Regions from separate parts of the Homo sapiens genome. Here regions 2, 3 and 4 are each reported to be linked to region 1. Evidence: microRNA targets listed by miRTarBase, many of them from high-throughput screens and not tested one by one. Region 1 holds a microRNA gene; each other region holds the end of a gene's coding sequence.
What was found. Region 1 holds the annotated microRNA hsa-miR-6860 (ACUGGGCAGGGCUGUGGUGAGU, at 1,790-1,811, shown strand). A microRNA usually pairs through its seed, bases 2 to 8, with sites in the 3' UTR of a target mRNA and lowers its output. Matches are read on the target gene's strand: a 7mer-m8 pairs with bases 2 to 8, a 7mer-A1 pairs with bases 2 to 7 and ends in A, and an 8mer does both.

Region 2: miRTarBase lists OR7D2 as a target of hsa-miR-6860. Seed matches in the 3' UTR shown: 7mer-m8 at 1,794-1,800.
Region 3: the mRNA of PLAC8 is a reported target of hsa-miR-6860. The part of its 3' UTR that is shown has no 7-base or 8-base seed match.
Region 4: the mRNA of SMTNL2 is a reported target of hsa-miR-6860. The part of its 3' UTR that is shown has no 7-base or 8-base seed match.

What each region holds. Positions count from the first base shown.
Region 1 is chr11:67,043,894-67,047,084 of GRCh38, forward strand. MIR6860 (microRNA 6860) reads left to right here and starts at 1,750; the gene lies at 1,750-1,815. It overlaps SYT12 (synaptotagmin 12), which reads left to right. Exons shown (of 8, transcript NM_177963.4): 6 at 700-820; 7 at 1,851-1,984. RefSeq lists enhancers at 2,203-2,332, 2,433-2,512.
Region 2 is chr19:9,186,337-9,189,336 of GRCh38, forward strand. It overlaps OR7D2 (olfactory receptor family 7 subfamily D member 2), which reads left to right. Exons shown (of 3, transcript NM_175883.4): 3 at 1-2,482. The coding sequence ends at 384. Among named protein-coding and RNA genes, the nearest start is that of OR7D2, 8.9 kb to the left of the region's middle.
Region 3 is chr4:83,091,885-83,095,075 of GRCh38, forward strand. It overlaps PLAC8 (placenta associated 8), which reads right to left. Exons shown (of 5, transcript NM_016619.3): 4 at 2,794-2,907. The coding sequence ends at 2,803. Among named protein-coding and RNA genes, the nearest start is that of PLAC8, 21 kb to the right of the region's middle.
Region 4 is chr17:4,607,150-4,610,149 of GRCh38, forward strand. SMTNL2 (smoothelin like 2) reads left to right here. Exons shown (of 8, transcript NM_001114974.2): 8 at 212-1,170. The coding sequence ends at 338. Among named protein-coding and RNA genes, the nearest start is that of LINC01996, 1.8 kb to the right of the region's middle.

The DNA.
Region 1 (3,191 bases):
ACACACATACACTTCCAGGAAGGGACTCCATCATCCTCATCATCCTCTGCAATAGCCTGAGCCCCATCATCATTAGGAGAGCAGAGAAGAAGACCTGAGCCACATCCGAGGAAACTGCTTGCTGCAGGCAAATTTCAAAAACATCCCGACCACTGTTTACAGCTCGTCTGCTGCTTTGCCACCAAAGCTTCAGAGGTTCTACCCCTACTGAGCTTCTGCTAGAGAAACATTCCTCTAGCCTTAGAGGGGATGATTTCAGACAGACACCAAGCTGCACTTTAGTTTTATAATTGTAGGAATGCTCACAGAACATCATTGTTGTTTAATCAAAGAATCTAATTCCATTCCACTCTGATCGCTGTGTATTACTACCGCAGTGTTTTCCTTGGCCTGCAATGAGGGAACGAAACTACATTTGATAGCTACATTTGACAGGCCGCCTCTGACCCTCCGCCCCAGGCAGGACCCTCCCGGTGGAAGGGAGGAGTGGGGCATGCTCCATGCAGTGGCGGGGGGTGGGTGGCTGTCCCTTTCTCCAGGCTGTCCCTGCCTGCCTGGAGCCCTGTGGTAAGGGGCCCCCAGTGCAGCCACTTCTCTATGGAGAAGGAAGCCCCAGCCTTTCCCTGGCAACCAAGGCTTTCCCTGGACCCCTCAAGTCGGGTGGGGAGAAGCCCTCTGAGCCACCTGTCTGTCCCCCAGGCCGCCGATGCTGTGGGGGAGATCCTGCTCTCCCTCAGCTACCTCCCCACAGCCGAGCGCCTCACCGTGGTCGTGGTTAAGGCCAAGAACCTCATCTGGACCAACGACAAGACCACAGCGGGTAAGGCCCAGCCGGCAGCCCGGCTCCTCCACGTAGCTCAGTGGAAGCTGTGGCCCAGCTGCTGTGCTGTGGGCACCCGGAGGCATCGGCAGGTGTGGGACACAGTGCCAAGGTCCCCCTCAGCTTTGCTGAGCCCAGAAGTCATGCAGATGGATAGGGGGTGGCATGGGGACAATTAATCCAGCCGGGGAAACATGAGATCCCTGGAGGGTGGCAGGGGCCCCTGTGAGGGCAGAGTGAAGGGGGTCAGAGTGATGCGGGGGTCTCAGGGCAGGAGGCCGCACTCAGGGCTGGGGGCACTGGGCAGGGAACCAAGGTGGGCATCTGTTCCCTGGAACTGGAATTCATGGTGGAGACTCCATTCCCAGAGACAGGGCAGTATCCCAGACTCCAAAAAGGGACCAGGGCCACGGGGTTGGGGTGGGTGCCAGGCAGGACCCGATGCCTTAGGTCTGCAGGAGTCCCCAGTCCCTCTCAAAGCAGTGACCGTGGAGGCAGCTGTATTCTAGAGAACTGAAGACCAGGGGCTGGGGGAGCCTGATCTATTGGGAGTTGCAAGCCTTGGGGCGGGGGTAGGTGGGGGGGGCAGCTCCAGGCAGGTGCGGCAAGGACACCCCGTGGGCAATAGGTGATGGGCAGACGGCAAGTTGTTATTTCAGAGCCGCACACGGTTGAGTCAGGCTCTGCTGTGCGGGTGCCCGGTGACTCAGGGCTGACGTCTGCACTCGGGCCATTTATAGAAGGAACACGGTGGGGCTGCTGAGTTCCCCAGAGCATCCTAGGAGGGGAGCGCGTGGGCTGTGAGGCAGCTGCCTGAGCACAAAGCCCAGCCCTCACCTGACGTGCTGTGTGAGCCTCAGTTTTCTCATCTGTGAAATGGGAAAAATAATAAAGGACCAATGGCAGGGCTGCAGGAGGTCACAGCAACAGTTAAGCATTGGGGAGTTTGGAGTCGGTGGGTGGAGCCAAACTGGGCAGGGCTGTGGTGAGTGAGTGTGACACTGGCCCTCACCTGTCCGCCTGCCCACAGACCCCTTCGTCAAGGTGTACCTGCTGCAGGATGGGAGGAAGATGAGCAAAAAGAAGACAGCCGTGAAGAGGGATGACCCCAACCCGGTGTTCAACGAAGCCATGATCTTCTCGGTGCCAGCCATTGTGCTCCAGGTGAGGGGGGCTGGGGGATGGGAAGGGGCCAGGTCACCCCAGGGCTCTGGGGCTGCCGCATCTCTCCACCTTCTCTTCTCAGGGCCCCTGCAGGGGTAGTGGTTTGCCTCCAGCCATCACTTTCTAGCAGTTATTGAGTGCCACTGGGGCCAGCCCTAGGGTGGGTGCTGGGGACACAGGCATGGCTTTCTCGGTGCTCACAAGGGACAGGCAGGAGAGTCCCTAATCCACTAAGAGTGTCCTCAGGTGAGGGGGGATTCCTGCAGGAGGGGATACCCAGCTCTGAGGGAGGACCATTCCTGGTGGAGGGAACTGCAGAGGGTTGGAGAGGAGCTGGGGTGAGCCAGGCACCCAGAGTTCCTGCTCTGAATCTCCCAAGCTCCATTTCAGGGTTCTGCTGAACTCCCCAGGTTCGCGTGGTCTTCAGAAGGTGACATGCTCCAGGGAGACCTCTCCCAGCAGGGACATCACAGACCACGGGTGGGGCTTGAAGATAGGGCTTGGGCCCTGCTTGCATGCCTCGGAGGATGGGGCTCGCACCACCTTCCCTCACTATCTCTAGCCCTCCTCGGCACTCCTGACAATGAGAAAGTCCTTTGTGCCTTGAGCCAAAACCTGCCTCCATAGCCCCAGGGCTGTACAGAACCCGCCTAATCTCCCCCAACCCGGGGACCCCGCCAGCATGTAAAGGCCCAGAATCTGCCTCACTCTGAGTGTTCCTAACCCGGGCACACCCCAGCATCTCTGGCCCATCCTGGGTATCGTAGCCTTCACCTGCCACCCTCGTGGAGCAGGCTGCCCATGTGTCCTCTGCCTCTCCCTGGGTGTCATAGTGCCACTTCTCCACAGCCTCTAAAAGCAAGAGACTTCTTGGGACCATGGGGGAAGTGGAGGAGGAGAGAGATCGGGCTGGGTTTGAGTTTCAGCTCCCGCTCTCATCTCAAGCAGTCTCTCCCGTCCTCGGTTGTGAGTGCAACGTGGTGATATTAGTAATAGCAACGCAACCTCTAGCATGTTCTGACTGTGCGCAGGTGCCGTTCTACACAGTTCACTCTTTTTGTTCCTGAAACAGCCCTATGAGATAGAAACCAATTTTTTTTTTTTTGAGACAGAGTCTCACTCTGTTGCCCAAGCTGGAGTGCAATGGTGTGAACTCAGCTCACTGCAACCTCCGCCTCCTGGGTTCAAATGATTCTTCTGCCTCAGC
Region 2 (3,000 bases), not on the chromosome of region 1:
CAGCTGGCCTGCTCTGATACCTTCCTGAACAGCACGTTGATATACTTTATGACGGGTGTGCTGGGCGTTTTTCCCCTCCTTGGGATCATTTTCTCTTATTCACGAATTGCTTCATCCATAAGGAAGATGTCCTCATCTGGGGGAAAACAAAAAGCACTTTCCACCTGTGGGTCTCACCTCTCCGTCGTTTCTTTATTTTATGGGACAGGCATTGGGGTCCACTTCACTTCTGCGGTGACTCACTCTTCCCAGAAAATCTCCGTGGCCTCGGTGATGTACACTGTGGTCACCCCCATGTTGAACCCCTTCATCTACAGCCTGAGGAACAAGGATGTGAAGGGAGCCCTGGGGAGTCTCCTCAGCAGGGCAGCCTCTTGTTTGTGATGGATCCCTTGGCCCCAGGACTAAGAAGTTTTGTGAGCACCAATGGCAAAAATGTTTTATTTTGAAATTCTTACTCTTTAAAATTAAAAACATTTTTTTATACTTTGAGAGTACAAATGCAGATTTCTTAACATGCATTTGCATAAGGGTGAAGTCTGAGCTTTTGGCGTACCAATTACCTGAATAGTGAACATAAGGCACTTTTTTTTCTTTTTTGAGACGGAGTCTCACTCTGTCTCCCAGGCTGGAGTGCAGTGGAGTGATCTCGGCTCACTGCAACCTCCGCCTCCCGGGTTCAAGTGATTCTTCTGTCTCAGCCTCCTGAGTAGCTGAGATTACAGGTGTGTGCCACCCATGCCTTTTAGTAGAGACGGGGTTTCACCATCTTGGCCAGGCTGGTCTCGAACTCCTGACCTTGTGATCCACCTGCCTTGGCCTCTCAAAGTGCTGGGATTACAGGTGTGAGCCACCACGCCCGGCCAAGGCAGTTTTTAAACTCTCACTCCCCTCTCACCTTTTGCAGTCTCCAGTGTCCATTATTCTGTTATAATGCCCATGCGTATACATTGTTTAGCTCCCAATTATAAGTGAGATCATGCAGCATTTGACTTTGTTTCTTTACTACCTTACTTAAGAGAATGGCTTCCAGTCCCATCGATGTTGCTGCAAAAGACATGATTTCATCCTTTTTTATGGCTGAGTAGTACTCCATTGTATATATCCTCGATATCTATATAGATATAGACATATGTAGATACATACCATGTTTTCTTTTTTTAAAAAAATTTATTTTTATGTCAGTAGTTTTTGGGGTACATGTGGTTTTTCATTACACGGATGAGTTCTTTAGTGGTGACTTCTGAGTTTTTAGTGTACCCGTCACCCAAGTGGTAGTAGTCTCTTATTCCTCACCCCCCTCCCAACCTTTCTCCCTTCAAGTCACCAAAGTTCATTATATTGTTCATATCCCTTTGTGTCCTCATAGCTTAGCTCCCACTTATAACTGAGAACATACGATATGTTCATATGGATCTTATGTATGTTGGTTGAACATACAAACAAGTCCAGGTTTTTCATTCCTGAGTTACTTCACCTAGAGTAATGACCTCCAGTTCCATCCAAGTTGCTACAAAAGACATTATTTGGTTCCTTTTTATGGATAAGTAGTATTCCATGCTGTACATATACCACAATCTTTATCACTCATTGGTTGATGGGCACTTAGGTTGGTTCCATGCCTTTGTAATTGCTAATTATGTTGCTATAAACATGCAGGTGTATGTGTCTTTTTCACATAATGACTTTGTTTCCTTTGGGTAGATACCCAGTAGTGGAACTGCTGGACTGAAAGGTAGTTCTACTTTTAGTTCTTTTTTTTGTTTTTTTTTTAAGACAGAGTCTCACTCTGTTGCCCAGGCTGGAGTGCAGTGGCGCGATCTCATCTCACTGCAACCTCCACCTCCCAGGTTCAAGCGATTCTCCTGCCTCAACCTCCTGAGTAGCTGGGACTACAGGCACCTGCCACCCCACCCAGCTAATTCTTCTATTTTTAGTAGAGACAGGGTTTCACCATGTTGGCCAGGCTGGTCTTGAACTCCTGACCTCAGGTGATACGCCCACCTCGGCCTCCCAAAGTGCTGGGATTACAGGTGTGAGCCACTGTGCCTGGCCTTCTAGTTCTTTAAGATACCACTTTAAAAAAAGTCCAGTCCTCCATTGATGGACACGTAGGTTGATTCCATATCTTTGCTAATGTGAATAGTGCCGTGATAAACATGGGGGTGTAAGTTAACAATTAATCTCCAAGTAATTTCCTTGATGGCACTTCTGTCCTATGTGCTATTCAAAAATTGTGTCCTTGATCATCGTTCTTAATTCTCCATTAGTGAGTTCTGAACTTGGGTTTGAAGCATTTGCTATAGCTTTGTTATCTCAAGTGGTGGCACAGAGTTCTTAAGCTATTGATTGTTCACTGACTTTATTTCTATGTGTTTGCATGTGGGTTTTTGTTGTTTGTGTGTTCGATCATGAACAGATCAACAGTGTTTATTTGTTTTCCTACTGGATGAAGTATGATTAAAATACGTATTTAAATATAGCTGGTTATATCTCTCTGGTGTCTCTTCTTCTTCTAAGAATATCAGTCCTATTAGATCAGGGCCTGACCCTTATGATTTCAGTAAACTTTAATTACCTCCCTGAGGACCCTGTATCTAAAGACAGTCATCATATTGGGGGTGAGGACTTCACTATATTAATTTTGGGGGGTGCAATTTAGTCCATAAGAGATGTTTATGCAGATCTGAGAAAGTTTCTGCCAACTCTATGGGGAGCTCTAAAGCTAGGGCTGCTCTTTGGAGAATTCTCACATTGTGTAGAAATAACCAGGCCCTATTACCCCAGGAAGCGTGGGGCCTTGAGGGTGATAGGGACAGAGGGTGGAGAAATTCTAGGCAGAAAAGGGCAGTTCCCAGGCAAAACCCCACCCTCAAGCCAAAAAGCCTGAAACTGCAGCCCAAAGTGAGAACTTATATCCCTGTTTTCTCGCTTGGATATCACCTTTTCCTAAACCACCCCTGACCCTGCCCAACCCCATGCTATGCCTATAAAAACCCC
Region 3 (3,191 bases), not on the chromosome of region 1:
TCATAGATATTTTATACTTTGGGTTATAATCTAACACGACCTTATTTTGTTCCTCAAAGTGCCCCAGTTTGGACTATGGGGAGCTTTTCCAGTGGATTCCTATGTCCTTCATCTCAATCTATTTTAACGTAAATCATGTTGTTATTCCTTGCTCTTTCTCTCTTGTTTAGCTCCCCATTTCGATATCTGTTTGTCTAAAGTTTTATTGCCAGTGAGTGATGTAGGGTCCAAGTTGATGAGGAGGAGTCAGGACCGCCAAGGTATTTTACTTCAAACCCACCTAAAGATTCAGTGAGATATTTTCCCTGAGGTTAAAGAAAACACTTGAGCTATCAGGACTCATTACTATGAATGTGTGGGTAGATATTTGATCCAAATTGTTTCATGTATTTATTTAAGTAAACAGTGTTGGAATGATCTAACTCCCCATCTTTGCTTCTGGCCTCATCCTGTACAATCTGTACTATATACTATTATTAGATTAATATTTATTATTTTAAAATTTTATTTATTTTTATTTTTACTTTTTAGTAGAGATGAGGTCTTGCTATGTTGCCCAGGCTGGTCGCTGGTGCTGAACTCCTGAGCTCAAGTGATCCTCCCACCTCGGTCTCCCAAAGTGTTGGGATTATAGGCATGAGCCACCATGCCCAGCCTTAGATTCATATTTCTAAAGAGTAGTTCTATTCATTTACTTCAAGCCTGCAATAATTTCCCAATTCCTACCAAGTCATTAGCTTAGTATTCAGACATCGCATGCTAAGGCCTTTAAAATCTTTTATTTTTCGTTATTTTTCTACTTATGCCATATGTTCTAGCCAAGTTGGACCTAAGCTCATAAAGATATTTTCTCTGTTTTTGCCTCTCTAGTTTCATTAATATTGCTGATTAGAAGCAACATTTCATTTCTTTTCTTTTTCTTTTCCTTTTTTTTTTTTTTTTTTTTTTTGAGACAGGGCTGGAGTGCAGTGGTGTGATCATAGCTCACTGCAGCTTCTACCTCCCAGGCTCAAGTGATCCTCCCACCTCAGCCTCCCAAGTATCTGGGACTACAGGCGTGCACCACCACACCTAGCTAATTTTTGTATTTTTTCAAGAGACAGGGTTTCAACATGTTCCCCAGGCTGGTCTTGAACTCCTGGGTTCAAGCAGTCCTCTTGCCTTGGCCTCCCAAAGTGCTGGGATCACAGGTGTGAGCCACTGCACTCAGCCTCCATTTCTATTAATTAAAACCACATCTTGAGTCAGTGATCCTCTGTTTGCCCCTATCTGATTTACTTACTCCCTTGACCATCCTGCTGTGTGCCCTGGGAAGCGACCTGCGGACTACCGTGACACTTTGCTGCCCTCTGCCTTTCTGGTGGGTTCAGCCAATGGGAAAACCAGAAGGACATCCGAAAGTGAGGTCAGGGTACTTTTTCAGTTCTATGGGTTGCCTCGGGCTGCTCACAACCCTCTCTTGAGAGGATACTGTTTCTTTCAGGGCAGGCCTCTTCACACAGCTCTCTCCTTAAGGATTCAGGTCACTGCTCCCTCTTCTCCTCCCTGGGGCTGTTGCCAGGCAGGTTATTATGCCATCCCTTGTCATCTCCCTACAATGCCCCACCCACACCTTTATAATTAGTCTTCATTAAATCTTTGAACTATCACAGTTTGAGTGCCATCTGTTTCTTGTTGAGAACTAATACGCACTTCCCCTTTAGAATTAAAAATCACTGCTTTCAAGAAACTTTCACCTATACATCTTACAAGATGTGATCTTTTCCTCCTCTGAACATAAAATACCGCTTTGTCTATAGGCATTAATTGAATTCTGCATTTTAGTTAGGGGTTTGTCTAATCCCCCTTTTTCGTATAAATTCTATAATGACAGAGGGACTAGCTTATTTATCTTGCTCCCCAACCCTACTACAATACCTAACAGTATCTTACCTAGTCTTAGATATTGATACATTGATACATTAGTTGCTAAGATAATATATACTTGATCCTAGATCCTTAATACATTACTTGCTAAGTAAATGAACATTTTTTTACGTATCTCCCAAGAGTTATTTTTATTAACCCATACAGAGTCCTTATCACTTCAGGAAGGAAACTGGATATTACAAAGAGTAGAAAAATTGTGTTCTTCCCATACTTAATATATATTCTACAGGGGATGGAGTAAGTCATGTTGATTTCTACTTAACTACATCCTCAATAGATAGTCCTGAGAAAAATTAGTTGAAAATGACTTGATTGAATTTCAGATGGTTAATTCTATATAACATTTCCAAACATTCTAAATTCTATGTTCACCTCTTTCAAAGTTCAGCTTCTCCAACAGGAGTTTTCTATTTAACCTCACCTTGCTATGATAGATGCTTTATGCCACAATCAATCCAAATATCATACAGAATGTTATTTTCTTTACTCTTCTATTTTATAATTATTTACGAATTCCTTTTGTCAACTTGTTTGTCTTAGCAGGGAACATGTTTTCTAATTCTTTTGTATCTCACCATACTCTGGTATTTTACAAGTGGTAAGTGCTTCCTTAATAGATCACCAGAATTCTGAGAAGTTTAGAAAATTCACCATTCCTTTATTTACTAAAATATGGTTTCAAAGTATAGAGCTATCTTCTTCATAAGAAGAAAATTAAAGCCAATCTTGATATTATGATAGCACTTCAGGAGACTTAAGAAATAGTTATTGCTGAATTATTCAAAACAACAAATAATTGACAAAGTCTTTAGTGATATTTCTAAAAACCCACATGTTCTGAGAGGCATGTTTGCATTGACTCACCATCAGTTTTTAGAAAGTACGCATGGCTCTCCTTCTGTTGATATCTCTCTTGATTTGGCAAAGAGTACAATGAGGACAGCAAAGAGTTGCCATATAGTCATCACAAATAGATCCCTGTTTGAAAACCAAAAAGAAATAAAAATATAAAATTCACCTATTTGGAATTAAGACTTGCCACATCTTGAAGAGAAGCAGAAGGCACTGATCTTTCAGATTCAGAGTTTGGATGGATACATTTAGGAAAATATTACCTCACTTTTTCACATAAATGTTGTCTCATTTTATGACGGAAAATATTTTTCTATACTTTACGTTTCTGAAAATGTAAGGAGATGTCCAACCAAACTATCAAGTATGAGAGTTAAATATCCTTGGGAAGTAGAATTTCAAAACTCTTT
Region 4 (3,000 bases), not on the chromosome of region 1:
CTCATAAATCTGGGAGTTTGGGAAACATTGTATTGGAGTCAGTGACTCCAAGGGTTCTGCCAGGGTTATCTGAATTCCCCGCTGGTGGGTCCTTGGGAACCTCTGGCTGCCGGCTGAGCTCTGTTCCCGGGACCGAGACACCGGCCCTGTCGCGGCTGTGGGGCTGGCTGATGGCTGGGACCACCGTTCTGACGGGGCTTGTGTGTTTCAGGAATCTGGCCAACTGTGAGCGCCTCATCGAAGTGGAGGACATGATGGTGATGGGCCGCAAGCCGGACCCCATGTGTGTCTTCACCTACGTCCAGTCGCTGTACAACCACCTGCGTCGCTTCGAGTAAAGCCCCTGAGCCTGGATTGCCAAAGAGCAGCCCCAGGAAGAGGCCGGGGGTCCGCTTGCGATTCCCCAGCCAGGATGCCCCCAGGAGCCTTGCCGTTTGGTGTGAGCGCGCTGTTTGTTCTGTGGCATGTGACGGCACTCCCCTTCGAGCCCAGCTGTGTTACTGATTAAAAGTACTGCTGAGCTGTGGTCCGACAGCACTGATCACAGCCAAGGGCTTGGAGGAAAAGGAAAAATTATGAGAGAGAGAGAGACATTGGTGCTAAGTAATGATCTTCCTAAAGAAATGCTTGTGTTTATAGCTTCCAGAATGCTAATCTACAATTTTCCCTCTGGTGAATTCGATACATCGGCTTTACAGGGTTACAGTGATTACCAAGTGTTTTTTTTTATCAAAATACCCAGAGTTTTTTACTTCCTCACGCGATTGTAGGTTCCTCTCCTCCCTCCCTCTGGGCCACTGCCAGGAAACAGAGAGACCGCTTAATCAGCAGCTTGACAAAGAAGACCTCAAGTCTTGGGAAGAAACAGTTTAATCACTCCCAAGTCCTGGGCAACAGATGACCTTCAAGTCACCTCCGCTCTCCGGGGAGATGGGAAGGCTCTCCTCTCGGTCCCAAAGTCCTCCTGTTCTTCCCAGGAGGCCCCACAAGTGTTTGGCTAAGCACAGGCTCTCGGGAATTTAACACTTTTGGGGAAGGAATAGGCCCTTTGTGCTGAGAGAGAGTTTTTATTCACATCTTTTTTAGGGGATTTGCTGCAGATATTTATAAAAAGTAACTCCCTCTGTACCACTGACCCATTTATACATAAAAAAGATGTGTTGAATTTTGCTTGGGGTTTGTCATTTCTGTTTAGGAGATGGGAGTTCTGTGAATAAGAGACTTTGCACACCTTCCAAGTGAATATCCACTACATTCCACCCCTGTTCCTGCACTTAAATCACTGGCCTGGAAAGCTGAAGATGGCATTTGCTGTCATCTCTGATCATCTCTGAGTGTGCCTGTCTCCCATCTCCATGTTGTGGAAGGAGCGTCAACAGAAAGTTCCCCTTGAGATCCGTCCTCTGGATGTAGACCGCAGTGTTTGTGATAAACAGTGGCCCAAGACAGCAGGGTTTGGGGTGGTCCCGCACTTGGAGGAAGCCCATCAAGGAACGTTGGTTTATTTTCACAGCTGTTTGGTGGTAGGACTTTCATAGAAAAATCTTGAGATTCTATAGAGCTCCAGCCATTAGCTTATTCTCAGCCAAGAATCATTGTATAATTGGGTTGGATTTTAGCCATGCACTTCTAAACCTTCCCTTTAAGGAGCGGATCTGTGTCTTCACCTCATGCAGCCGGCTCTCAACACCAGTGCCTGTGTGCCTTTGTGGGGTCCCACGTGTCCCTTGGGTGGTATATTGGGGGGTGGGCAGGAGATCCCTGGGGGTGTCAGGAGGAACATGGCAGAGCCTGCAGGTGGGTGAGCAGTATTCTCCATGGATTGGTTGGTCCAGGCTGCAGTCTTGCCCTCTCTCTCGGATTCTCCCACTCTGGAAACCATTCCCTTGCTAGCTCTCTCGTCTCTTGTACGCTTGGGGAGGTGAGACCTATTATTAACAGGACACATAACTGAAGGTTAGGGTTTCAAACCTGAAGCCAATCTGGGAACACAAGGGCTCTGTAAAAAGCATGGCTATATGTTACTGAGTCCTCGCACACGTTAAATGGAGCTCTCCCGAGTTGCAGACATGGCCGTACGCTCTGCGCATGAAACAGAGCAGATCCTGCCAGAATGCAGAACAATTTCTTTTAAACTTTAGGAATGGTGTCCCTCATGTCTCACATTCAGAATGAGACAGACTCGAGTTTTTAAAGTTGGTTCCATGATGTTCTTGTCTGTGGTCTTTGTTGGGGGTGGGGGGTGAGAGATCATAAGACAGTTTGTGAGTTTCAAACATGATTTTACCTCTAAGACAAAGCATGAGAAGAAAATCCAGGAAGGTCTCACAATCCTAAGATATTTGGAAACCACCGTTTTAGGTCGGGGTTACGTGAATGTTCCCCATTTGTGAGACCCAATTTCATCTTGCTTTCTACCCTGGTATGGAGGAATTCACATCTTTTTTCCCCTTTCCCGAGAGAATTATTTCTTGGAGCTGCTCATAAGAGTCTTCTGTTTTTCCAGATAGATTCCTTCACCTGGATTTTGTTAAACTTATTAAGTCGGACCAAATTGGCTTGTGTGTTTCCCTGAAGTGAACGTTTCACCAGAGCCACGATGGGTTTTAGCTTTTCTGATAGCTGATGGATATTTTTCAAGGCAAGCGAGAGCCTATAAGCACTTTCTGAATATGACAGAGCACATGCTGGTGAGAGGAGACCGCACAGGCCAGGTGTTTGGGGAACAGTTTGTTAAAGCCAATGAATTTCGCAAATGTGCTAGATGATGAAGAGTTCTCAGCTTTCCCGGTTGCAGTGATCAGAACTCTGTAACTGGAGACCGGTGTGAGAGAAGATTTTATTCTCTGCCATCATGACCGGGTCTATACGACTGCAGGCAATTGCACAGAAGACTAGAAATGCTGATTCAGTTGGTCAGTTTGGGGTGGGACATCTTACCAGTCCAGCAGAACCAACTCTGGCTTGGGTTTTTCTAGCTGGTGACAGGTGACCAACTCA